Linked DNA regions of Homo sapiens. The protein of the gene in region 1 purifies or fractionates together with the protein of each later gene. This does not show direct contact. Each region holds a gene or a part of one and is shown on either strand. Other genes may lie near its edges. The genes, in order: USP32, OXSR1, HDLBP, GAPVD1, ANKHD1, EIF2AK2 and ABCD3.

Evidence for each region.
Region 2: the proteins of USP32 (region 1) and OXSR1 purify together in Homo sapiens (affinity purification with mass spectrometry; one large-scale study listed by BioGRID and IntAct). This does not show direct contact.
Region 3: the proteins of USP32 (region 1) and HDLBP purify together in Homo sapiens (affinity purification with mass spectrometry; one large-scale study listed by BioGRID and IntAct). This does not show direct contact.
Region 4: the proteins of USP32 (region 1) and GAPVD1 purify together in Homo sapiens (affinity purification with mass spectrometry; one large-scale study listed by BioGRID and IntAct). This does not show direct contact.
Region 5: the proteins of USP32 (region 1) and ANKHD1 purify together in Homo sapiens (affinity purification with mass spectrometry, with the first as the bait; one large-scale study listed by BioGRID). This does not show direct contact.
Region 6: the proteins of USP32 (region 1) and EIF2AK2 purify together in Homo sapiens (affinity purification with mass spectrometry; one large-scale study listed by BioGRID and IntAct). This does not show direct contact.
Region 7: the proteins of USP32 (region 1) and ABCD3 purify together in Homo sapiens (affinity purification with mass spectrometry; one large-scale study listed by BioGRID and IntAct). This does not show direct contact.

What each region holds. Positions count from the first base shown.
Region 1 is NC_000017.11:60,210,634-60,214,133, reverse strand, and holds part of USP32 (ubiquitin carboxyl-terminal hydrolase 32), read left to right. Parts: intron 1-471; coding exon 472-553; intron 554-2,035; coding exon 2,036-2,110; intron 2,111-2,619; coding exon 2,620-2,758; intron 2,759-3,015; coding exon 3,016-3,121; intron 3,122-3,500. UniProt on the Homo sapiens protein: Deubiquitinase that can remove conjugated ubiquitin from target proteins, such as RAB7A and LAMTOR1.
Region 2 is NC_000003.12:38,252,537-38,255,984, forward strand, and holds the end of OXSR1 (serine/threonine-protein kinase OSR1), read left to right. Parts: intron 1-280; coding exon 281-355; 3' UTR 356-2,948; downstream 2,949-3,448. UniProt on the Homo sapiens protein: Effector serine/threonine-protein kinase component of the WNK-SPAK/OSR1 kinase cascade, which is involved in various processes, such as ion transport, response to hypertonic stress and blood pressure.
Region 3 is NC_000002.12:241,228,673-241,232,172, forward strand, and holds part of HDLBP (vigilin), read right to left. Parts: intron 2,273-3,500; coding exon 2,087-2,272; intron 1,598-2,086; coding exon 1,481-1,597; intron 1,290-1,480; coding exon 1,161-1,289; intron 1,016-1,160; coding exon 929-1,015; 3' UTR 1-928. UniProt on the Homo sapiens protein: Appears to play a role in cell sterol metabolism. It may function to protect cells from over-accumulation of cholesterol.
Region 4 is NC_000009.12:125,352,326-125,355,825, forward strand, and holds part of GAPVD1 (GTPase-activating protein and VPS9 domain-containing protein 1), read left to right. Parts: intron 1-2,328; coding exon 2,329-2,516; intron 2,517-3,318; coding exon 3,319-3,500. UniProt on the Homo sapiens protein: Acts both as a GTPase-activating protein (GAP) and a guanine nucleotide exchange factor (GEF), and participates in various processes such as endocytosis, insulin receptor internalization or LC2A4/GLUT4 trafficking.
Region 5 is NC_000005.10:140,502,833-140,506,332, forward strand, and holds part of ANKHD1 (ankyrin repeat and KH domain-containing protein 1), read left to right. Parts: intron 1-1,988; coding exon 1,989-2,134; intron 2,135-2,289; coding exon 2,290-2,401; intron 2,402-2,891; coding exon 2,892-3,037; intron 3,038-3,500. Other genes in the region: ANKHD1-EIF4EBP3 protein, read left to right, coding at 1,989-2,134, 2,290-2,401, 2,892-3,037. UniProt on the Homo sapiens protein: May play a role as a scaffolding protein that may be associated with the abnormal phenotype of leukemia cells. Isoform 2 may possess an antiapoptotic effect and protect cells during normal cell survival through its regulation of caspases.
Region 6 is NC_000002.12:37,146,981-37,150,480, reverse strand, and holds part of EIF2AK2 (interferon-induced, double-stranded RNA-activated protein kinase), read left to right. Parts: intron 1-1,176; exon of another isoform or gene 1,177-1,457; 5' UTR 1,458-1,624; exon of another isoform or gene 1,625-1,987; intron 1,988-2,075; exon of another isoform or gene 2,076-2,109; intron 2,110-2,658; 5' UTR 2,659-2,674; coding exon 2,675-2,793; intron 2,794-3,500.
Region 7 is NC_000001.11:94,501,889-94,505,388, reverse strand, and holds part of ABCD3 (ATP-binding cassette sub-family D member 3), read right to left. Parts: intron 1-3,500. UniProt on the Homo sapiens protein: Broad substrate specificity ATP-dependent transporter of the ATP-binding cassette (ABC) family that catalyzes the transport of long-chain fatty acids (LCFA)-CoA, dicarboxylic acids-CoA, long-branched-chain fatty acids-CoA and bile acids from the cytosol to the peroxisome lumen for beta-oxydation.

The DNA.
Region 1 (3,500 bases):
CCTGTCTCTACTAAAAATACAAAAATTAGCTGGGCATGGCGGTGGGAGCCTGTAGTCCCAGCTACTCAGAAGGCTGAGGCAGGAGAATTGCTTGAACCCAGAGGCAGAGGTTGCAGTGAGCCAAGATAGTGCCACTATACTCCAGCCTGGGCAACAGAGCCAGACTCCATCTTTAAAAAAAAAAAAAACAAAAAACAAAACGTATTCATGTAACCAAACACCACCTGTTCCCCAAAAACCTATTGAAATTTTAAAAAAGAGAAAGATAACGCTTATGAAGTACACATTGTCTTTCTGTCATACTGCCACCTAAGTTATAAATATTTATGAACAACTATAGTAGGCCAGATATTTGTGATATGTTATATAACTACAAAGAAGTTGTTTTTTTAATTGTTACTCATTTTTATCTCTGTATTTGTTTCAAGTTTACTAACCAAATAACAAAAACATTTCCTCCTCCTTACACAGAACTACCTTACTCTTCTGGATGATGAGGATCATAAATTGGAATATTTGAAAATCCAGGATGAACAACACCTGGTAATTGAAGGTACAAGATGGAAGCATGCATCTATATTAAATTTTCAAGGGGAAGAATTTAAAGAGTTACTAATAACCCATTTTATAATTTTCTCCAAAACAACTATTATTTGATTATTATGTTTTTATGATAAAGAAACCCTTTGGAAAAAAAAGAAAAAGAAAACCCTTTGAACTCTTATGTAATCCTACCATACAATTTAGATTGCTTTAAAGGGAAAATATTCTGTTTTTAGTCATTGACTGACAAAGAATGGGAATGGTAGATAAAAAACAAGTGAATTCAGTTTACACATTTATAGTTCCTTAAAATTTTCAAGTTGCTGCTTTGAGTTTGAGTAAAAAGAACAACTTTCTTGCATAGTTAGTAGCACAGGCTTTCATTAGTCACCAACATTGGCTACTCACTGACAGAGCTATTTGTATATTCATAGATTTACACACTGGCATGCACATGCCATTAAAAACTTTTTAAGTGTATCTTTTCCCATCAAGTTTTGTGGCAACATTGTTAGCTGCCTTTGTATTAAAATGAATAGGCCGGGCGCAGTGGCTCACGCCTGTAATCCCAGCACTTTGGGAGGCTGAGATGGGTGGATCACTTGAGGTCAGGAGTTCCAGACCAGCCTGGACAACATGGTGAAATCTGTCTCTGCTAAAAATACAAAAATTAGCTGGGTGTGGTGGCACGTGCCTGTAGTCCCAGCTACTCAGGAAGCTGAGGCACGAGAATCAGTCAAGCCCAGGAGGCGGAGGTTGCAGTGACTCAAGATCACATCACTGCACTCCAACCTGGGGGGACAAAGCCAGACTGTCTCAAAAAAAAAAAAAGGAATAAATTACTCTGACAGTTGTTACAATTTAAGAAAGAATTGTAATTTCTAATGTTTTAAGTATAAGAAATTCCATTGTTTCTGAACTTTAATTACTTCTGTAGATGGTTGAGTATAATTTTACTTCAAGTAGGTAATTGAGGGATAAGATTATTCAAACCAAGTGACTTTAAAGTCCTCAATATGAAGAGTAGGAATGGTTTTAGAGCCAATTACAGGCATGTGCTGCAAAAAGATGTTTGTCAACAAAAGACCTGTATACAGCAGTGGTCCCATAAGATTATAATACTGTATTTTTAGTTGTGCCTTTTCTATGTTCTAACATGTTTAGATACACAAATACTTACCATTGTGTTACACTTGCCTACAGTATTCAATGCAGTAACATACTGTACAGGTTTGTAGCCAAGGAGCGACAGCCTATACCATACATAGCCTAGGTTTGTGTAGGTACACTCTGTGATGTTCACACAAAGACAAAATCACCTAATGATGCATTTCTCAGAATATAACCTCGTCGTTAAGCAATGTATGTACTAAAATTAACTAGATTTTAAAACTTCTGATTTAGGAATAAGATGTCTTTAAAAAAAAAAAGCAATCGAATGGGTATAAATTAGATAGATAAGAAATTAACACATTCCTATCTGTCCTTCCAGTTCGCAACAAAGATATGAGTTGGCCTGAGGAGATGTCTTTTATAGCAAATAGTAGTAAAATAGATAGACACAAGGGTAAGTCTCCAGTATTATTTTTTAAAGAGATTATTTTAAATGTATTCTTTTTTTTTCTTCTCTCAACTGTTAAAGTGCTAACAACTTTTGGTTTTCTAGTTCAAAAGTAATTAGGGCCTTCTTCTTTTTCTTTTTTCCTGAAGCAGCATTTGATGTTGGCAAACCCACCATCAAATTATTTTCTAAATTTCTTTCTAACTCTGCAATTAAATAATTTATATGTTTTAAAAGACATACTAGAAGAAGAATTGTTTGAATTATTTTGAAAAATCATAGCAATTAAAAAGAATAATTGCTGCTTCTGGGTTACAAATGAGCATGGATCATCACTGTTGCCAGACACTCCATGAAAAGCCTTCTCTAGCATTTCAGAGACCTGCTAGAGAATTATTAGCACCATTTAGCTGATTATGAGAGTTATAAAAAACCTTTTCATTGAATATAAGTAACTGTTTGTGCCATGGCATATTACTACAGCTAAGCTTTGGTTCTCATATTGTTTGTTCCAGTTCCCACAGAAAAGGGAGCCACAGGTCTAAGCAATCTGGGAAACACATGCTTCATGAACTCAAGCATCCAGTGTGTTAGTAACACACAGCCACTGACACAGTATTTTATCTCAGGGAGACATCTTTATGAACTCAACAGGTAATCTTTCTGGAGTCACTGGCCTCTTAACCTGTGACTTTGATATAAACCCAATATCACCTAAATTTCCTCTTTTTTCACCCTGTGGGAGAAAGATTTTATCTTATTTGCCCTATTTAATATGAAATAGGCCAAGGAATACATCTCTTGTTTCAAAAAGAAAAGATATTTTGATGTGAGATGCTAGGCATTTTTGCGCCCACATGATTGTGATTTATGAGAATCTTTGGCAACAAATTTTCCTCTCAAACTTCTAGGACAAATCCCATTGGTATGAAGGGGCATATGGCTAAATGCTATGGTGATTTAGTGCAGGAACTTTGGAGTGGAACTCAGAAGAATGTTGCCCCATTAAAGCTTCGGGTAAGCAGGTTAAAATAATATAAAAGTATTTAATTCCTAATAGTTGTTTAATCATTTTTCTCTGCTTGTTTTTTGTGTTTAGCCTTTTAACTTAATAAATGTTTTTGGATCCTTCACTTGGTATAAACAAAAGGTCAAATTCTTTTGCTTGTTTAAATATATGCAAAATTACTACTGTATATGTAGTGGGTAGGATAAAGACCAAAGGTACACTCTAAATTCGGGATGTCATTCATTTTACTAATTTGTCAAACATCTTATATGAAGAGTAAACCTTTTTTGGTAATACTTCACTATTAGCAGTATTCTAACTGCAAGGTGGACCTCAGAGTCTTATTAATTACATCCAATCCAATCCATTTTCAACGTAACTAAGATA
Region 2 (3,448 bases), on another chromosome or scaffold:
ATGTTTCCCTTTGAGTGGCCACTCTTCCTCTGTCCATGCCAGGAAACCTCTGACCCCAGAGACCCTTGGCTATTCATAAGAGAAACTATTAGCCAGTCTGACTCTAGCTGTTTACCCAGCCCCCCTCTTTTCTGGAATAAACACCTTCGTCAGTCTCCTATTTGTATCCTAGGGACCTGTTGCCCACTGCCTACCTTCCCACTATCCCATGTCTGTTTTATTTGCTACCTGCAAGTTTGTTTATAAATAATCACAGTTTCTCATTTTGTTTGGTTCTTAGGCATCTGGTGTCGAAGGCTCAGATATTCCTGATGATGGTAAACTGATAGGATTTGCCCAGCTCAGCATCAGCTAAACCACAACCCTGGAAGAGGCGGCCTAAGGAGATTCCACACATGCGTATCTCTGTTGCTTCTATTGGCCTAAACCCACTACTGCCAAAGAACCCAGCAACAAACCTCCCGGCTAGGAGCTTTAGAAGTCTTTATGTTCTTCCTGCCATCATTCCTCCTTTTCCCACAGGGAAAGAAAAGTTGGATCACTAGTGGCCAGCATCCCCAGAGTTCCGTTAGTAAACTTACTTCATATGTCCCCTGTCTTCCTCCATCTGAGAAGTGGCCCATGTGCTTCAAGGCCCAGGAGGGAGATCTGTCAGCTCATTCTTGCCTTACTCCAATGATGGCCCAGGTGGAAAAGTAGCAGCTGTATCGGGCTTCCTCATCCTGCCTGTTCCCCCACACCTGCCAGGATATGGACATCTTGGGATATCTCTTTACCACTGAAGTAGAATTGATTGTTCAGCTGGAGCCCAGAGAATTTAATTTAATGTTTTTTCTTTGTACCTGATGTGAATTCTAGCAACCTTTGTTAGGAAAAAGCACAGCCTCAGATGGAGGCAGCCTAAACTGTGTTCTTGTTTTGTTCATGGTGTTTCTAAGCGTTTTGCTGAAGCTGCTCTCAGGCACCCCCTTCTTCATTGCTCTCTCCAGAAAGGGTTGCTAGCCTTAACTTCAGCTGGTGCAAAACATCTGACTGTAGCCGAACTTCAGCCATCAGATCCTTCAAAGTGGAACTTTGGATTGTTTTTACAGACAACATCGAGTAATGGCTTGTAAATGTGAATTTTGCCAGAGGTGGTTTTTGAACAGGAAAATCATAATTCATATCATTGGAGAAGTATTTATTTTCAAATATCAAATTGAAGAAAAACTCAATCCTCCCATGAAAATCAGTTCGCCTGGCCTCCAAGTCGTGAGGAAATGGGTATGCAAGGCTGAGATTTCTACAGCAATAAAGGAGACACACACTGGGCCAGAGAGGCCTGCCTTCTGCCTGCTCTCCTGCACTGACCCTTTGGAGGGGGTCTCTGTGTGCTGAAGCTAACTCAAGATGGAAAGTGAAACCACATGTGCCGTGACCTTTAGGTTTTATGAGTAGACAGTGTTCATTTGATTTTCTACAGAAATAATATAAATTATTCTTTAGGTTTAAAAAAGAGCACTCATAATGCAATATGTGAATAATCAGTGAGGTTGATTTTTCTTTTTTCCTACCGTTTCATAGTCTTTGTCTAACTGCTAGTAACCCTACCGAGTTTTATATATGAGTGGGATACTCAATCTGGCCTTAAAAAGATACACAAAGATGGGCTGTGGGTCCCTGGAAAGGGGGAGAGTTGCCCTTTACAGAATCACTCGAGCCCTTTCCAGCACTGTTGGTCTGATGAACAAGGTTGTTTTACCTTATTTTCTCTTGGAACATATCTGAAAACCTTCCCCACAAATAACTTGTCACACCTTTTGTTTCATTCTGAGTCTTTAGTTTTAGTCATGGGCTTTCTTCACCTGCTCTAGGTGCAAAGGCATGTTGGGAAAGAGATGGATGTTGGGGAGGAAGAGAGGAGATGGATTTCAGTTGGGAGTTAGGAGGAGAGTAGGTGAGATGATCAGACACCGGAGTTCAACGTCCCAGCAGTCTTGGTAAAAGGAGGGAGCCTGCTGAGCCAGGAGGGAGAAAAGAAGATTGACCAGCTTGCTAGAAAAATACTTAGCTTTTCTTTTTCTTTTTTTGTGGAGGGGGGACGGAGAGGAACAAGGATGGGGAGGTAGGAATGAGGTATAGAAAAGAGATAGCATCTTCTTTGGCACAAGACTAGTGGCTTACCGCTTACCTTAGAGTTTTGTTTTTTTTTTTTCAAACCCATCAAAATCTACTTATTTATGAATCCAAGGGGTGGCAGCATCACTCTGTTCTAGCATTCTTTGTGGAGATGGTCTGGTGCCTAGCTGGGAGTGAGCAGCAGCCCATCCCCTGTTCACTTTCTCTAGCCCATCATTACCTGTGAACTGCAGTGGGGCAGTCATGGCAAATAGAATTGGGCTGGGGTTTCTCCTTCTTTTCAGTTCATTGTTTGCCCTGCTAGGAATTAGAAGACAGACACCATGTCCCAGGACAGTGTTACTTCTTCTGCATGATGTGTGGTAGACTCCCTTTGCTGGCTTGTGCAGTGATACTGAGAAAATACATGAACAGAAACTGCCCAGGTGGAACAGCACGTAACCTAGTGAGTGACTGTACTCCTTTCTAGGAATGCTGATTCAGAGTGCACCTCTTTGACTAGGTCCCAGGATCCCCTTGTCCCTGGAGTAGGGACTAACTATAGCACAAAGTAATATGTGCCAATGCTATTTGTGAAATGTTTGGTCTTTCTAAACGACTAAAGGATTTGTTGGGTTTTTGCTTAAGTTTTGAACCAAATCCTAGAGCCAGCTGATAATATTTAATAATCTGGAGGAGAGAATAATGATGTACCAATAAGTGGAGATTCCTCCTTATGATGTATGCTAGGTTATGGAAGATGTAAAATATTCAACTTTTTCCTCCTTTTTTTGGACTTTGTATTTTACTGCATGTTTTCTTCATTTTTAATCAATAAAGAGTAAATTGTCCTTAGTGGTGTATGGACGCTTTATTTTAGTGGCCGTTGGCGGAGAGCTGTGGGTTGTGGGTCAAGGAATCACCACCAACTTTAATTGTTCATGCGAATAGAAGCCAAAGTACATATAAACTGTAAAGTGTGTCTGTTGATCTACAAATTATCTAGAACCATTAAAGCCATTATATAGTTGGGGAAACTGCAACCCTAAAAGGGAGGGATGAGATCAGCCCAAGGAATTGGATAGGATGGGATATGGAACTCCTTTTATTATCTTTTGATCTTTTTTAAATCTTTGGTTTTGCTTATGCTGTTGGGCAAGGAAGGATGCCAGATTCAAGCCCTTGGGAGTCTCTTTCGAAAGTTCAGAACAGGGCTGAACTTATCTCTTCTTGGCTTTGATATTGCAATGGTGAAGTTACATGTAAGATTCTAGGCTCCTTTGTATTCCTGTTATCCTCCCACTGCAGGAGGAATCTTCCCTCATCATCTGCCCTTCCCAACAGCAGTGGC
Region 3 (3,500 bases), on another chromosome or scaffold:
CACTCCACGCCGGCTGAGGTAGAAAGAAGGCAACTGAACACACAGCAGCTAGGGCAGGGGCAGGGAGGGGCTGCAGGTGGTGTGAAGAAGAGCCCAGCTGTCATCTAAGGCAAACTGCCCCCACTGAGGACAAGCGTAAGGCCCTACCTCCCCCAACCTGTGCGCATCTCAATCACAGCAGACACTGTGACGGCCACAGGGGACCCAGATGGTGCCTACCACCTTGCCTCCAGGCTCCACTCACCAGACCTCAGGCTGAGGGTCTGGCAGTGGAGGTAGGGGCAGGGACCCTTGGTGCTTTCAGACCCCACGGCAGGTAAAATCAGGACTGCCTGAGAACCCGTCACCCTCTGCCTCTCAGGTCACCCCCCAGCTCCAGGAACCTGCCTCCTGCTGTCCATTGCCAGGTCTTCCTTGCACCCTGACACCTGTGCTGAGGCGCTCTGGCAGCTGGAGGAGGCTGATTGCACTCCACAAACAGGACTGTCTGGACCAAGGGAAACTGGCAGGAGGGAGGTGGGAAAGGAAGAGGGCAAACGTTTGGCTTTTATAAAGTCAAGGACGTTTATTTCCTGAGGTCATGACACAGGAAGTGGAATCCTAGCCACGGCTGCGGAGCTCTCGTGATGAAGGCCAGAGTGCTGACTGACATGCCGGGTGGACCAGGAGCTGGAGTCTGTTATCTTAGCACGAATGCTCATGACCTTGGTTTAGTGTTAAACAGTGGAGCAGGTCCTGAGCGGGCACGGCCAGGCCTGGAGGAGCGGCCGCACACACAGCCAGGCGCTAGGCTCCCTGCGGGACCTCGGGAAGGGGGAAGAGCGTCAACAATTTACGGAGGGTCCAGCCGCTGGGTCAGATTGAGACAAACCATTGTGTGGTTGGGTTTGGGTCAGCAGGCTGGAGAGGGTTCTGTTCTTTTTGATCATTATCGTTTGGGGCCCCAAGGGAGGGTCTTGGGAGCCACCTGAGCCCCAAAGCTGGGAAATTCCTCAGAGCTGCTCATGTCAGGAGCCTGTGCAGAGAGAGGACACGGCTTCAGGAGGGGATGCTCCCCAACTCGCAAGCAGCTTCCGACGCAGTTGCCACCCTCAGGACACCAAGCCCGCCTGCCCGCCCACCCTCCCTGGGACCCAGGAGGGCAGAAGCCCGCATCTGACCTTCTCACTGCTGCTGGCGGTCCAGGGTGCGTCCCGCACCACAAAGCCTCTGGAAGGTGCCTTGGCCTCTTCGTGTGCTGGGGGTTTCATGTATACCTGCAGCGCCTCACTGTCCACCACGTCAGCTAGCTGCAGGCAGAAGACAGGAAGACAGGGTCAGTCTGCCCAGCACCCCCAGCATCCCGCCCGCCTGCTCACCCCTGCACCTCGCCTGCCTCTGGAAACACAAGTGCCACCTTGTCCCCTGAAGCTCCTGGCTGGGCCTCAGGCCGGTGGACGTGCCAGGGCGCCTCAGGGCTCCAAGGCCCACAGAGACTCACGTATTCCTCCTCCAGATTGAGGATGTGGTCGATGGCTTCCTCCACATTCTCTGGGAGCCCCGTCACAGTGACGCAGTTGGGGTCTGGGGCTCCGCTCTGTGGGAAGCGAATGTCCACCTGGAAGGGGTGTACAACGTCAGATGAGGGGACTCCAAGCGAGGAAAAGGGTTAAAATTATGTGTCAATTTCTAGTGAAGCATTTTCTGAGTTAGCAAACGTTTTAAAATCTGGTTTCAGAGTTGTTCTGAAGTCAGTCAGCCTCATCACCACACCAAGTTAGGTGTATCTCAGGAGCACCTTGTTCCCAGCAGACAGAGGGCCGCAGCACGTACTGTGCGCTCTTGCATGAAATTCCCACCCACAGAGGACGAGCTCGCCAGGCAGCTGTCAAGGAGATGCCCTCCTAATGGCCACCGTGGCAGTGCAGCCTCACACAGGCCGTCGCCTGCACTGACCCGTGGTGTCCATGAGGACAGTTCCACTGCCAGCCCTGGGGTTGTGGCCTCATCATCTTGAGGGGAAGGCCATGCCCTGCTCTTTCTTCTGGCCAGCCAGGTGCCCCCGGTGAGAGAGGATTCTCACCCACTGTGCTTCCAGCCGGCTCACCTTGAATTCGTCCATGATTTTGCGAATGGCTTTGCCGCGGGCACCAATGATGCGGGCGTGAACGCGGTGGTCCAGCGGGACGTCCTCAGAAACCATCTGCTCAAGTTCACCCACAATTCTCAGTATAGCATCCCTGGCAGCTTCTGTGTTCTTTTCGTACCCTGTGATGGTAATTTGGTCCTGGGGCTAAAAAAGGAGAATGTAGTCAGAAAAGGGGATGCCTTACTGGGATTCCCGTCAGGGGCAAGAGCCGGCCCCCACTGCTGAGGAAAACAGCTCAGGAGAGAAGATGGAAAGCAACGTCACGGCTGATTTAAAACAAGAGGTTAACAATGTCCACTCAGGGCCGGGCACGGTGGCTCACGCCTGTAATCCCAGCACTTTGGGAGGCCGAGGCAGGCGGATCACCTGAGGTCCGGAATTCGTGACCAGCCTGACCAACATGGAGAAACCCCGCCTCTACTAAAAATACAATATTAGCCGGGCGTGGTGGTGCACGCCTGTAATCCCAGCTACTCCCGGGGCTGAGGCACGAGAATTGCTTGAACCCGGGAGGCGGAGGTTGCTGTGAGCCGAGATTGCGCCACTGCACTCCAGCCTGGGCAACAGAGCAAAACTCCATCTCAAAAAAAAAAAAACAAAAAAAAAACACCCCACAAAAAACCTATGTCCACTCAGCTTCCATCTCTTCCCAAACTCTACCCAAAAGACAGTGAATTACAGAACGAAAAAGGACATTTGTCCTCAAAGACAAAGGAGAGACACTAACAGGCAAGAATTCTGGACTCAAGGACAGCGGGGCAAAGACAAAGCCCCAAGCCCCTCAGCTTCCTGCTTCTTTGCCCACGTGGGCCACAGTCTGGAGGCATCTTTGTGCTGGAGGCTGGAGGCTGGCTGGCATTCCTCAGCGAGCCCCTCCCTCACTCAGAGATCCCACCTGCTCAGGCCTTCCTTGGGCCACACAAATGGACAGGAGACACCATACCAGACTTGGGATAGCAGACAAGCAGACCAAGCAGACAGTTCAGGGCATAGAGAAGGAAACGTGGTAACAAAACACCTGTAGCCCACAATCGGCGAAAACAACATGTCCACAACACAAAAACCACCATGCAACAGGACTAGAGGACGGGGACAAATCACAACCATCACGCAACAGGACTAGAGGACAGGGACAAATCACAACACGGAACCATCATCACGCAACAGGACTAGAGGACAGGGACAAATGCCTGGAAAGGAAATGAGCAGAAAGACCTAACCTAGAGACAACAGAGCAGCAGCCCAAGAAGCTTCTGTCCAGATTGAAGCAAAATGCCAGAGTGGGAGGCAGCAGCCCCACCCACCGTGGCCCAGCAGAGCTGACAGCCTCAGGCACCACCCGCGTGCTGCCAGGTACAGAACCTCAAGATCG
Region 4 (3,500 bases), on another chromosome or scaffold:
CTTCTGCCTGGGCATCCAGGCGTTTCTATACATCTTTTGAAATCTAGGTGGAGGTTCCCAAACCCCATTCTTGACTTCTGTGCACCCACAGGCTCAACACCTCATGGAATCTGCCGAGGCTTGGGGCTTGCACTCTCTGAAGCCACAGCCTGAGCTCTGTGTTGGCCCCTTTCAGCCATGGCTAGAGCGGCCGGAGGGCAGGGCACCAAGTCCCTAGGCTGCACACAGCATGGGGACCCTGGGCCTGGCCCATGAAACCATTTTTCCTCCTAGGCCTCTGGGCCTGTGATGAGAGGGTCTGCCATGGAGACCTCTGACATGCCCTGGAGACATTTTCCCCATTGTCTTGGGAATTAATATTCAGCTCCTCATTACTTATGCAAATTTCTATAGCCAGCGTGAATTTCTTCTCAGAAAATGGGATTTTGTTTTCTATCGCATTGTCAGGCTGCAAAGTTTCTGAACGTTTATGCTCTGTTTCCCTTATAAAACTGTATGCTGGCCAGCATGGTAGCTCATGCCTGTAATCCTAGCACTTTGGGAGGCCAAGGCAGGTGGATCACCCGAGGTCAGGAGTTCAAGACCAGCCTGGCTGACATGGTGAAACTCTGTCTCTCCTAAAAATACAAAAAATTAGCTAGGTATGGTGGTGGGTTCCTGTAATCCTAGCTACTTGGGAGGCTGAGACAGGAGAATCGCTTGAACCTGGAAGCGGAGGTTACAGTGAGCTGAGATCACGCCACTGCACTCCAGGCTGGGCAACAAGAGTGAAACTCTGTCTCAAGAAAAAAAAAAAAATGAATACCTTTAATAGCACCCAAGTCACCTCTTGAATGCTTTGCTGCTTAGAAATTTCTTCTGCCAGATACTCTAAATCATCTTTCTCAAGTTCAAAGTTCCACAAATCTCTAGGGCAAGGGCAAAATGCCACCAGTGTCTTTGCTAAAACATAACAAGAGTCACCTTTGCACCAGTTCCCAACAAGTTCCTCATCTCCACCTCAGCCTGGACCTTATCGTTCATATCACTGTCAGCATTTTCGTCAAAGCCATTCAACAAATCTCTAGGAAGTTCCATACTTTCCCACATTTTCCTGTCTTCTTCTGAGCCCTCCAAACTGTTCCATCCTCTGCCTGTTACCCAGTTCCAAAGCTGCTTTCACATTTTCGGGTGTCTTTTTAGCAGTACCCCACTCTCGGTACCAATTTACTGTATTTGTCTGTTATTATGCTGCTGATAAAGACATACCTGAGACTGGGCAATTTAACAAAAGAAAGAGGTTTAATTGGACTTAACAGTTCCATGTGGCTGGGGAGGCCTCAAAATTATGGCGGAAAGTGAAAGGCACATTTCACATGGCAGCAGACAAGAGAAGAGAGCTTGTGCAGGGAAATTCCGTTTTTTAAAACAATCAGATCTCTTGAGACTTAGTATCACGAGAACAGCACAGGAAAGACATGCCTCCATGATTCAATTCCCTCCCACAACACATGGAAATTCAAGATGAGATGTGGGTGGGGAATACAGCCAAATCATATCAATTTCTAAGCAACATATTTGGATATTTACTCTGGAAATGTAGTTACAAATGAGCAGTTCCAAATAGAAGAGTGCAATTTACTTCAGCTTTGCACAAAAGCAGGTAAAGAGGTATGCCTATATTTTGAGGCTAGAACAACTAGAATATCATATTTCTTTTCTTAGTGGTGATAGGAAAGCCTACTTTCCTGGACCAGAGAAGCAGATGTAAGTAGCCTTAGGAATTGCTGTGCTTTTTCTGCTGCCAGTCCCCTGCTCATGATTATGGAGAAAAATGTAACTGAGATGCTTAGGTAGTGAGGAGGCTTCAAGGCTTAGGGAATGGGCACTCTAGTAAATGTGACATTTAGACTATAAGCAAGTAATTGGTGGGGGATGTTTGTGACCTAGTGACATATAACCTGTATTTGTTGTTATTGTTGGTCATCTGTAGCTGTCAATTTCCTATTAAGTATGAGGTCCTATAGCTCCAGTATAAAATACACCAAGTATGCAGAGGGGCTTAGTAACATTTAGTGAATTAGGTAACTAAGTCTTCAGCCCCATAGATCCTCCCAAACAAAATGCAAAATGGGTGTCTGTTCTGCAGCTGGCACCATGATCAGTCTCTACCATGTCTGCAGCCTGACATGCTACTTTGTATATGTGCTACTGAAGAGAGCACAGACATGCTACTTTGTAAAACCAGTCTGTGCAGTAATTTTTCTAAAGAAAAGTTAGGACCCTTATTCTTCAAAGAGAGTATGCACTGAATATATCTGATGTCATGCAAAGTATTTTTCCTTTTAGAAAAAGAGCCCCATATATTGCTTATCTCACTCGTTGTCGACAAGGACTACAGACCACACAGGCTCACCTGGAAAGGCTATTGCAAAGAGTTTTGCGGGACAAAGAAGTGGCCAATCGATACTTTACCACTGTCTGTGTGAGATTACTGCTTGAGAGCAAAGAAAAGAAGATCAGGGAATTCATTCAAGGTAACTCAATACCTTTAGTTTAAGCATCTCTTCACCTGTAATACTGTTGGGAAGATTTAGAAATACTGTTTTGTTTTGCTAGTTTGTTCAAGTATCTGCATGCCTTAAATACCCAATTATTTTATGGAATCTTAATAAATTAAACTTTGATGTCAAACCAATAAATTGCATTTTTCTCCTGGATTGAATATCTGTAGCTTACTTTTTAAATTGGGGACATTGGTAAATTTTTGGATCTATACAAATTTTCTCATTTTTTTTAAAAAGCCAAACATATTTTTTTTAGAAACTTTTGAGACGGAGTCTTGCTCTGTCGCCAGGCTGGAGTACAGTGGCGTGATCTCGGCTCACTGCAACCTCTGTCTCCCTGGTAGCTGCCTCAGCCTCCCAAGTAGCTGGGATTATAGGCACGTGCCACCACGCCCAGCTAATTTTCATATCTTTAGTAGAGATGGGGTTTCACCATGTTGGCCAGAATGGTCTCAATCTCCTGACCTCGTGATCCGCCCACCTCGGCTTCCCAAAGTGCTGGGATTACAGGCGTGAGCCACTGTGCCTGGCCTAGAAACATATTTTTATAACAAATTCCTTGCACTTAAACTTTCACATATTTCTTGCTTTTTCTCCTGATTTAATTATATGGCTACATATTGTCCTAAAATAAACTACACTGAAACACTTTTGGCTTTAAGATCATGGTGTCTGCATAGCTAGTGATTAAAATTATTTCTATGATTTCCTTTTTAAAATTATTTAGATAGTTTTTATTAAACTATTTAAAAATTATTATTTTGCTTTGGAGACTTTCAGAAACTCACCGCAGCTGACGATAAAACTGCTCAGGTAGAAGATTTTCTGCAGTTTCTTTATGGTGCAATGGCCCAGGATGTCATATGGCAAAACGCGAGTGAAGAACAGCTTCAAGATGCACAGCTGGCCATTGAGCGAAGCGTGATGAACCGGATTTTCAAGCTCGCCTTCTAC
Region 5 (3,500 bases), on another chromosome or scaffold:
CATTTTGCATATTCTTATAGGTGAAACAAACATATGTAATAATTATTCCTATTTGTAACTAAATAGTTAAATTATGTTATTTATGTGATGACAGAAGCTGGAGAAATTTGTATTGCCAAGATGGTTATATATGTTGGTGGGGATGAGCTGGGTAGCTCATGTAGAAATATATCTGGGCATCTTAAACTTTGCTCACTTATTTAAACTAGTAATCTACTAAACTGAGTCATTCACACTTACGAATAGTATCTTTGAATGGGATCTAGTCATATCAAAAATTCTAGAGAGAAAATATTTTCCAACACTTAAAATGCTTACATTTTTCTTTAAGTCCTACGTGTTTTTGACTGACTTTTAATCTGGGTGCAAATGTAAGGTTATTGCCATCACTGATGCTTTGTTGATTTTTTTGTATATTATTACTGATTATATGTTTTTTTCTGAGTTTTTCCTTTCTTGAGTGAATAATGTTTTTATTTTTCAATACAATGAATAATAGTATTGACAATCCTATAAAATATCTGATAGTTACATCTATTGAGCACCCACCATTTGCTAAAAACACTGTGTTAAATGCTTTATATACAGTATCTCTTAGACTACTCACAACATCCCTGAGATAGGTCCTGTTTCCCCCCGTGGTCAAACTCCATCTCTTAAGAAACATAAGAAATTTTCAGAGATATAAAATACATAATTTCTTTTAACTCAGTTTTCTTTCTTTTTTTTTTTTTTTTTTTTTTTTTTTTTTTTGAGATGGAGTCTCACTCTGTTGCCCATGCTGGAGTGCAGTGGTGCGATCCTAGCTCACTGCAACCTCCGCCTCCCAGGTTAAAGCGATTCTCCTGGCTCAGCCTCCCGAGTAGCTGGGCTTACAGGCGCGTTCCACCACTCCCAGCTAACTTTGTGTTTTTAGTAGAGACGGGGTTTTGCCATGGTAGCCAGGCTGGTCCTGAACTCCCAACCCTCCTGACCTGAGGTGATCTGCCCACCTCAGCCTCCCAAAGTGCCAGGATTATAGGCGTGAGCCATCGCTCCTGGACTTAACTCAGTTTTCAAACCACATTTTGAGATCTCAAATAGAACTTCAATGTTCATTTTAAAAATAGTTGGACTTTCAGATACTGATTTTTTAACAAAGTTTCAAAATAAATATTGAATTTAGGAAACACATACTCCCTGCTATTTATGTGAGAAATACTTGAACTTGTCTCCCTCCCCTCCCCCACCCTTTTTTTTAGATGTAGTCTAGCTCTGTCACCCAGGCTGGAGGGCAGTGGCGTGATCTCAGCTCACTGCAGCCTCCACCTGGGTTCAAGCAATTCTTCTGCCTCAGCCTCCCAAGTAGCTGGGATTACAGGCATGTACCACCACACCTGGCTAACTTTCTGTTTTTTTTAGTAGAGATGGGGTTTCACCATGTTGGCCAGGCTGGTCTCAAACTCCTGACCTCAGGTGATTCACCCGCCTCGGCCTCCCAAAGTGCTGGGATTACAGGCGTGGGCCACTGCGCCCAGCCCCCTTTTTTTGAATTGTACACAGGATATTTTTATCTAATTGACTTTTTTACAAACTAAAATCTAGAATTCCTTTTATTTACTTTTATTTTTGGAAATTTTTTTTCCTCCCTGTTGGCAATGCAAAAAGCTACTATTTAATGTATGTGCACTAAATATCAGGTGCTGTGTTAAGTATTTTATCTGCATTGCCTCAGTGGTCTTTCCAATAACCTTCCAAGGCAGGTACCATTATTTTCGCCATTCTACATATAGGGAAAATTGAAGCTCAGAGAAGTTAAATTACTTGCCCAAGATCAGAAAGTCAGTGTTGGAACTAATATTTAAATGTAGGTCTGTCTGATTCCAAAGCTTGTGATTTTACTATTACTACATATTACTGCTATGGAAATTTCTGTTTTTGTGTTTTTCTATGTACAAATAACCTTACTCTTTTAAGTGGAATTTAGCAATATGAATATTGTTTTTCAGCTGTGAGTACCAGAGTGCCCACTGGTTCCAACAGTTCTTCTCAGACCACAGAGTGTCTTACACCTGAATCCTGTTCGCAGACTACAAGCAATGTGGCTTCCCAATCGATGCCTCCTGTGTATCCTTCAGTTGACATTGATGCACATGTGAGTAGATTGCTTTATTTAAACTTATTTTGCACATTCTGATCTTCTTTGGAAAGGAAAATTATTCTGCATTTATTGTGAAAAGAAATATTATTTGCTCTTAAATTGATAACTTCTGTTAAAAAAAATTTTAACTTATTTTTTTCTTCTCCTAGACTGAGAGCAATCATGACACAGCATTAACACTAGCTTGTGCAGGTGGTCATGAAGAACTTGTATCTGTGCTCATTGCACGGGATGCCAAAATTGAACACAGAGACAAAAAAGGTAAATATCAGTCAGAAATAAAATCCAAGTGTAGTTACATCAGAAAATAATTAACTTTTTTATTATTGATAAATAGTTCCTAGACTATCTCAGTGATAAGATGGATAAGTATATTTCAGTTAGGAATATCTGGATTCATTATTCTGCGGAGCCAAATAATTCTCAAAACATTCAAAAATTAGACGTAGATCATTAGTGAAATAGAGCAAGTTGTGGTTGCCTTTGTTAATCCAAAGGTAGTTCATACAGAGGCATCAAAGTTCATTATGAGTATAAACTTTAATAATTTTTACCGACTTAGTTTTTTAATTAGGTGTTTATGGGTTTTTTGTCACTAACAAATTAGGGTTTAGAGCAGTTTTATGTTAACTCATTATCAGTGTCTGCCCTGAAGGATTTATTTTGCTAAAATACTAGAGAATTGTAAACAGTGGCTTTAAAATAAAATAAAAAACATAAATTTGTTTAAGATTTTCATTTTCTGATTTAGGTTTCACACCACTAATCCTGGCAGCAACAGCAGGGCATGTTGGAGTTGTTGAAATCCTTTTGGATAAAGGTGGAGATATAGAAGCACAGTCTGAACGAACTAAGGATACTCCGCTTTCATTGGCATGTTCTGGTGGACGTCAGGAGGTGTGTTAATGTTAATTTTCATTTTGTAAATATTTTGCTTGTATTTTAAAATATGCATATGATTCGTATTTTAGCTACATGAATAAAATTTGCATGTATTTTGTGTGTTTGTTTTTCTGAGGCAGGGTCTTGCTCTGTCTCCCAGGCTAGAGTACAGTGGTGCAATTACAGCTCGCTATAACCTTGAACTCTGGGGCTCAAGCAATCCTCAGCCTCCCAAGTAGCTAGGGCTGTTTTGTAGAGATGGGGTCATGTAATGTTGCCCTGGCCGATTTCAAACTCCTGGCCTCAAGCAATCCTCTCTCCTCGGCCTCCCAAAGTACAGGGATTATAGTTATGGGCCAGCATGCCTGGCCCTGCACGTATTTTAACATGTTCCATATACTTTCTGAGGAATGGGTACTTCTGTTAACTTTTATGGGAATGTAAATGCCCTTTTTTTTTGGCGGGGGTTTGTGGAGGG
Region 6 (3,500 bases), on another chromosome or scaffold:
AAAATATTAAAACTCTTAAGGTCAGTTATAAATGTAGAAAAAAATGCAAAAAAAATTTAAAAATATTTAGTACACTGTAATTTAAAACATTAAAAATAGAATTAAAGTGTTTTATTTCATTGTGAAAACTAAGTAGTTTGAATAGGGATTGCCTTTTTTTTCTGCCAAGTGACTTATGATACTGAGTAAGCATCTTTTCTATTCATGGCAAACTGTCATACTCCTTTTAAGTTTGGGTGAGCTTCCAGCCTTTTATTGCTTGTGCTTTCAATGTTGTGAAGTATTTCTGTATTCACATTAAATGCTCTTTAGTGTGAAGTTTGTTTTTTTTTTTTTTTTACCGTCACTTCCTCTGGGACATATTTATCTTTATTGCAATCACTTTTCTTATTTGTGTTGATAAGTTTGCCTTCACTAAGCTCCTATGAATGCACAGCAGGAAGAACATTCCCATGATCAGTGACTTCTTCTACAAATCCATTTATGTTTGATTCAAATTTCACTTCCAGTGTTATCATTTTTCGTTGCTTTGTTGGACTTTCATCTTTGTTGGCCAGTTCTTTCGATTGTTCACTTCTATAAAATGTCAGGTGGAGGACAAAGAGACAGTGTAACTACGTGCTCTGCTGTGAGTGAACTGATTAACAGATGCACAGGGACCAACCACTGGAAGAATTTGAAACAAGTAACACGACTGGTCACTGATCATGAAGCATATCTGTTATTTACATCGTGATTTGTAGACTGAAGAACTAGCAGAGAAGTTTGTACTTCCTGTAATTACTCAGAGTTATACTGTGCTACCTAAAATTTTAACCTAGGTTTAAACAACACCAGTTTCCTTACCAGTTTCCTTTCCTTCCTGGTAAGGAAACTGGTATTTAAACTAAATCTAGGTCACTGAAATTTGTGCCATGGGAACCGTGCACATTGAGGACCTGCCTACACCCTACATGTTTATATTGGTCCAGGCAGGCTTAATGCTGACTACTGAGAAATAGGCTATCTGAATTTATATCAAATAGTGAATCTTAAAGCACCCAAGATGAAAAATTCGTGCACATTGAGGTGCTTTTAAAATCTTTGTCATTTGACAATCAAGCTTAAAATGTATCTTAGAGTAACCGAATTTTAGAAATAAAGACCTTTAAAGGCCCCATAGTTTGATACCACAGATTATCCAGCATGTTTATAATGAATTATTTCTCCTCCTTCAATTTCAGTTTGCTCATACTTTGTGACTTGCGGTCACAGTGGCATTCAGCTCCACACTTGGTAGAACCACAGGCACGACAAGCATAGAAACATCCTAAACAATCTTCATCGAGGCATCGAGGTCCATCCCAATAAAAATCAGGAGACCCTGGCTATCATAGACCTTAGTCTTCGCTGGTATCACTCGTCTGTCTGAACCAGCGGTTGCATTTTTTTAAGCCTTCTTTTTTCTCTTTTACCAGTTTCTGGAGCAAATTCAGTTTGCCTTCCTGGATTTGTAAATTGTAATGACCTCAAAACTTTAGCAGTTCTTCCATCTGACTCAGGTTTGCTTCTCTGGCGGTCTTCAGAATCAACATCCACACTTCCGTGATTATCTGCGTGCATTTTGGACAAAGCTTCCAACCAGGTACAAGCGGTCTTCCGAATTTTGCACTCAGAAAAGTGGCATCATCTAAGTCAATTACATGCAAATTCTGGGGGGCTAGTTTTTTGTGTATGTTAAATGGGTCACAACACGACTTCTGTAAATCCTCAAATCTGTCAATATAAATTTTTATGTGATGAAAGCAAATTGTATTGTTCCTAGAAAGTGTCCTTCCAGTTCTAAGTTGAAGTAAAAGCATGTCATTTGATGACAATTCTTGCAACATCTTAAAACCTGTGTGACAAGTATAGTAGGTTTTATGGCACTCATTTGTAGTACGAAGCTGGACTGCAACTATCGATCCATCATTGTTGATTCTAGCATATTTTCCTTGTTTTATTTTGTCTAGAGATCTAGGTCACGGGCTGATCACCCTTAGCTTGAGCTCTCCTCCGCCTGGCTTCCGGCAGGATCCACGTCCACACAGGCACACTTGCCTGCCCGTTCATTTCCCAGCCTGTCCCCATGCTACCACTCCACTTCACTTATTATATATACTCTAAATCTTTTTCTTCTCAACATAAAACATTCTACAATCCTGCAGCCTTTTTACTTTTTTAAGCAGGTAGGCAAACATGTAGTTGATACTCAGTGGAAGCACAGAGCAGAGTTAAAGAGAAGGACCCCCTTTCACTGACCAGTTGAGTTTTTTTTCTTTCCTTTATTTTTTAAAACAATTTCAAAATTGAGATGGGGTTTCGCCATGTTGCCCAGGCTGGTCTCGAACTCCTGAGCTCAGGTGATCCGCCCACCTTGGCTGGGATTATAGGCGTGAGCCACCACACCTGGCCAAGTTGAGTTTTTAAAGTAGAAAATTTTGGAGAAATTAACTTTATTGTGCAGTGAATGAGAAAGAAAGAACGGTTTTGAAAGAAAGTCTCTGCATTTATGTGAGACTGAGATGAGTCCTATAAAGGGGAGTCTCCCCAACCCCTCTGTCTCCTAAACTGCATTGGGAAACTCAGATTAAATATGTTCTGTGAGCATCACTCATTCAAATGTCTCTTCCATTGTAGGATACGGGAAGAAGAAATGGCTGGTGATCTTTCAGCAGGTTTCTTCATGGAGGAACTTAATACATACCGTCAGAAGCAGGGAGTAGTACTTAAATATCAAGAACTGCCTAATTCAGGACCTCCACATGATAGGAGGTAGGTTGCTATAAAAAATGATATGGCAGCCATAAAAAATGATGAGTTCATGTCCTTTGTAGGGACATGGATGAAGCTGGAAACCATTATTCTCAGCAAACTATCGCAAGGACAAAAAAACCAAACACCGCATGTTCTCACTCATAGGTGAGAACTGAGCAATGAGAACACATGGACACAGGAAGGGGAACATCACACACCAGGGACTGTTGTGGGGTGGGGGGAGGGGGGAGGGATAGCATTAGGAGATATACCTAATGCTAAATGACGAGTTAATGGGTGCAGCACACCAACATGGCACATGTATACATATGTAACCTGCACGTTGTGCACATGTACCCTAAAACTTAAAGTATAATAATAATAAAATTAAAAAAAAAAGAAAAAAGATATGACCTTATAAATGTAAGCTGGGGGAATGGCAACTCTGGCACAACTTTGAGGTCAACACTTTAGTTTTGTGAGAGTGCTCTTGGCATAAAGTGGGAACCATGGTGGAGCCACAGTTGACTCCAGAGAGAAAAGAGGGTAGAAACCTTTCCATGCTTCAACAAGACATGCTGCTTTACTGTTTGAGGTGACTGCTTAAATGCTATATTGAATGTAGGTTCAAACCCTCAAAGGTAGTCATAGGAGGTAGTGATGACTAGAGTACTTGTTTTTAGATAGTGCATGAGTTGTATAATATTTTATGAATATTCTCTTTG
Region 7 (3,500 bases), on another chromosome or scaffold:
AAAAAAAAAAAAAAAAATTAGCCAAGCATGGTGGTGTTCATCTGTGGTTCCAACTACTCAGGAGGCTAAGACAGGAGGGCTTGAGCCCAGTAGGTCAAGGCTCAAGGCTGTAGTGAGCTATGATCAGGCCACTGCACTCCAGCCTGGCTGAAACAGCAAGACGCTATCTCAAAAAACAAACATTTTAAATTTAAAACATTTAAAAAATTAAAAATAAAAATTCCTCTTTGAGTTTCTACTTGGGTATCTCACAGGACTCTCAAACGTTAAAAGTCTAAAACTCAAATGTAATTTCTAGATTTTCCCTCTAAAATCCATTCCCTTCCCTAATCTTGAACACTTCAGCAAATGAAACTATCAAACAGTTGCTCCAGCTAGAAAGCCAGGAGTCCTCCCTGGTCTGGTCCTTCCCTTTTCCTCTTCCCTTTCACTCTCCCACAGCTATTTTTAAAATGAACTAAAAAGTCCATTCAAGAAAGAAATGTGAAGTTTCAAGTTCACTCACTTTTCCTCATCTCCACAAACATGCCCTTAGCCCAGAGCACACTCATCTCCTGTCTGGATAGACTACAAGTAGCCTCCTACCACTTCTGCTGCTCCTCTCCAGTCCACTCTCCATGTAACCAGAGAACATCTTTCACAAATGTCAATCAGGGAACTTCACTCTCTGGCTTAAAACCCTTCAACAACTTCCCATTTCACTTAAAACTCAAACTCCTTACCACAGTCTACAAGACCTGCACAATCTTATTTCTACTCACGCTCTAACCCCAACATTCTAGCCAACACCGCCTCCTCTCAACTGCTAGGAACAAGGTGCTTTACACCTTAGAGCCTTAAACACACATCATTCTTTTCTGATGTCTCAAATGCCTTATTCTGTTCCTTAGAGCTTTCAGATTTCTGCTTATAATGTCATCTCAGGCAAACCTACCCTCATCCCTAGCCACAATCCAAGTGGGTCCTTTCTGTAACACCTCTGAAGCACTTCATATATAATCCCAGCACTTTGTGGGGCTGAGGAGGGCAGATCACTTGAGGCTAGGAGTTCGAGACTAGCCTGGCCAACATGGTGAAACCTCGTATCTACTAAAAATACAAAAATTAGCCAGTCATGGTGGTGCATACCTGTAGTCCCAGCTACCTGGGAGGCTGAGGAACAAGAATTGCTTGTACCTGGCCGGGCGCAGCAGCTCACGCCTGTAATCCCAGCACTTTGGGAGGCTGAGGCAGGCAGATCACAAGGTTAGGAGTTCAAGACAAGCCTGGCCAACATAGTGAAACCCTGTCTCTACTAAAAATACAAAAATTAGCTGGGCATGGTGATGCGTGCCTGTAGTCCCAGCTACTCAGGAGGCTGAGGCAGGAGAATCGCTTGAACCCAGGAGGTGGAGGTTATAGTAAGCTGAGATCGTGCCAGTGTACTCCAGCTTCGGCAACAGAGTGAGACTTTGTCTCAAAAAAAAAAAAAAAAAAAAAAAAGAATCACTTGTACCTGAGAGGTGAAGGTTGCAGTGAGCCAAGATTGTGCCACTGCACTCCAGCCTAGGTGAAACAGTGAGACTGCCTCAAAAAAAAAAAAAAAATTCAGAAAAGCAGAGACTGTTTTAATCACTACCATGTACTTGACACTTATATATGGGTAGCATTCAACTATCTAATAAATGAATGACTAAAACAGCTTTCCACCTGTTTGCATGAAGTGAGGAAGGGGAGGCAGCAAGTATAGACTATGAAGAAGTTCAACTGTGCAGAAAATGAAAGGTACAGATCACAGAGAAGCTTTGGCTAAGGCAGAGTTTGCTTTTTAGATCAAAGAGACCTGAAAAATGTCTTTCCACAAGAGAAGGACTAGAAGAGGTTAAATGTAGGTGGGGGCTGCGGGAGGGGATATAACTGAAGGAAAAGGATGTGATAAAGTCAGAAGACAGAGGCTCCATAAACATAGATGGAAGTATTTGCCTTTCTCAAGAAGGATGACATATCCTCCAAGACAGCGGAAGTAGGGAGGTCAGGACAGAGCAGCACACAGTTAATTAAGAGGAATGGTTATCTGAGGGCATTCCACCAATGCCTCTCCTCTCTGCTCCCAAAGGACTCTCTGCGTACATTCATCACCACACTTACTACATGACATGGACATTTTCTCAACATGTGTCTCTCTCGCTCCCACTATGCTGTCAGCTACTTAATGCCACAATACAAGAAAGTTGTAAAGCAGGAGTGTCCAATTTTTTGGTTTCCCTGGGCCACACTGGAAGAATAAGAATTGTCTTGGGCCACACATAAAATACACTACCACTAACGATATCTGATGAGCTTAAAAAAAATTACACACACAAAAAAATCTCATAAGATTTTAAGAAAGTTTATGAATTTGTGTTAGGTTGCATTCAAAGCTGTCCTGGGCTGCATGTGTCCGTGAGCCACAGGTTGGACAAGCTTGTTGTAAAGTGAATAAGCATATGCACACTGCAGCCATACTGCTTGCCTAAGCCTGACAAAGCCCCCACCACCAGCTTTAACATTTACTAGCTGTCTTTGCTTGGCCAGCTACTGAATTGCACAAAAGTTCAATTTCCTCTGTAAAATGGGGCGCGGCGGCTCACGCATGAAATCCCAGCACATTGGGAGGTCGAAGCAGGTGGATCACTTGAGGTCAGGAGCTCGAGACCAGCCTGGCCAACATGGTGAAACCCCATCTCTACAAAAAAAAATACAAAAATTAGCCAGGCGTGGTGGTGCATGCCTGTAATCCCAGCTACTTGGGAGGCTGAGGCAGGAGAATCTCTTGAACCTGGGAGGCAGAGATTACGGTAAGCTGAGATTGTGCCACTGCACTCCGGCCTGGGCGACAGAATGAGACTCTGTCTCAAAAAAAAAAAAAAAAACTAGGGGGGCATTCCCAGTTCTTACCTCACAGGACTGTTGTGAGGATGAAATGAGATCACCTGTGTAAGGTGCCTGACATACTGTCTGTCATCTTTTCAGCACTCAATAAAAATTAGCTGTCATTTAATTGAAATAATAGCCTATCTTTCTTTGAAAAGTAGAAGGCGAGTTATTCTGCCAAGTGCAGTGGGTTAAGTAACGGGGTAGAAAACCCAAAATTGGTAGTTTTAAAATGATTGTCATGAAAAATGAGAGAAGGATAAAAATAAGTAAAATGATTGCTAAGCCATGCTGTGAGCCCATCTGATGTTTTTTAGCTGTGCTCAGAAGAGCGGTTAGAGAAGTGCCAAGGCAAATAACTGGGCTGGGATTTAGGTAATACGATGACACAAAAAGTGGGAAAGGAAGTTAAGGGGAAGGGATGAACTGTTCATTCCTTAAGAAATATATCTTATCTCCTATGGGCCACACCCTGGATTATGAAGTCTGTACTGGACAGGAAAGGAGGCAGAGACAGAAAAGGACTGAACAATTGTAAGGAAAGGGAAGGATTAATATTCTAGAGATCTCAGGGAATTTGAGAAAGGGGGATAGTTGCTAATTTAAGG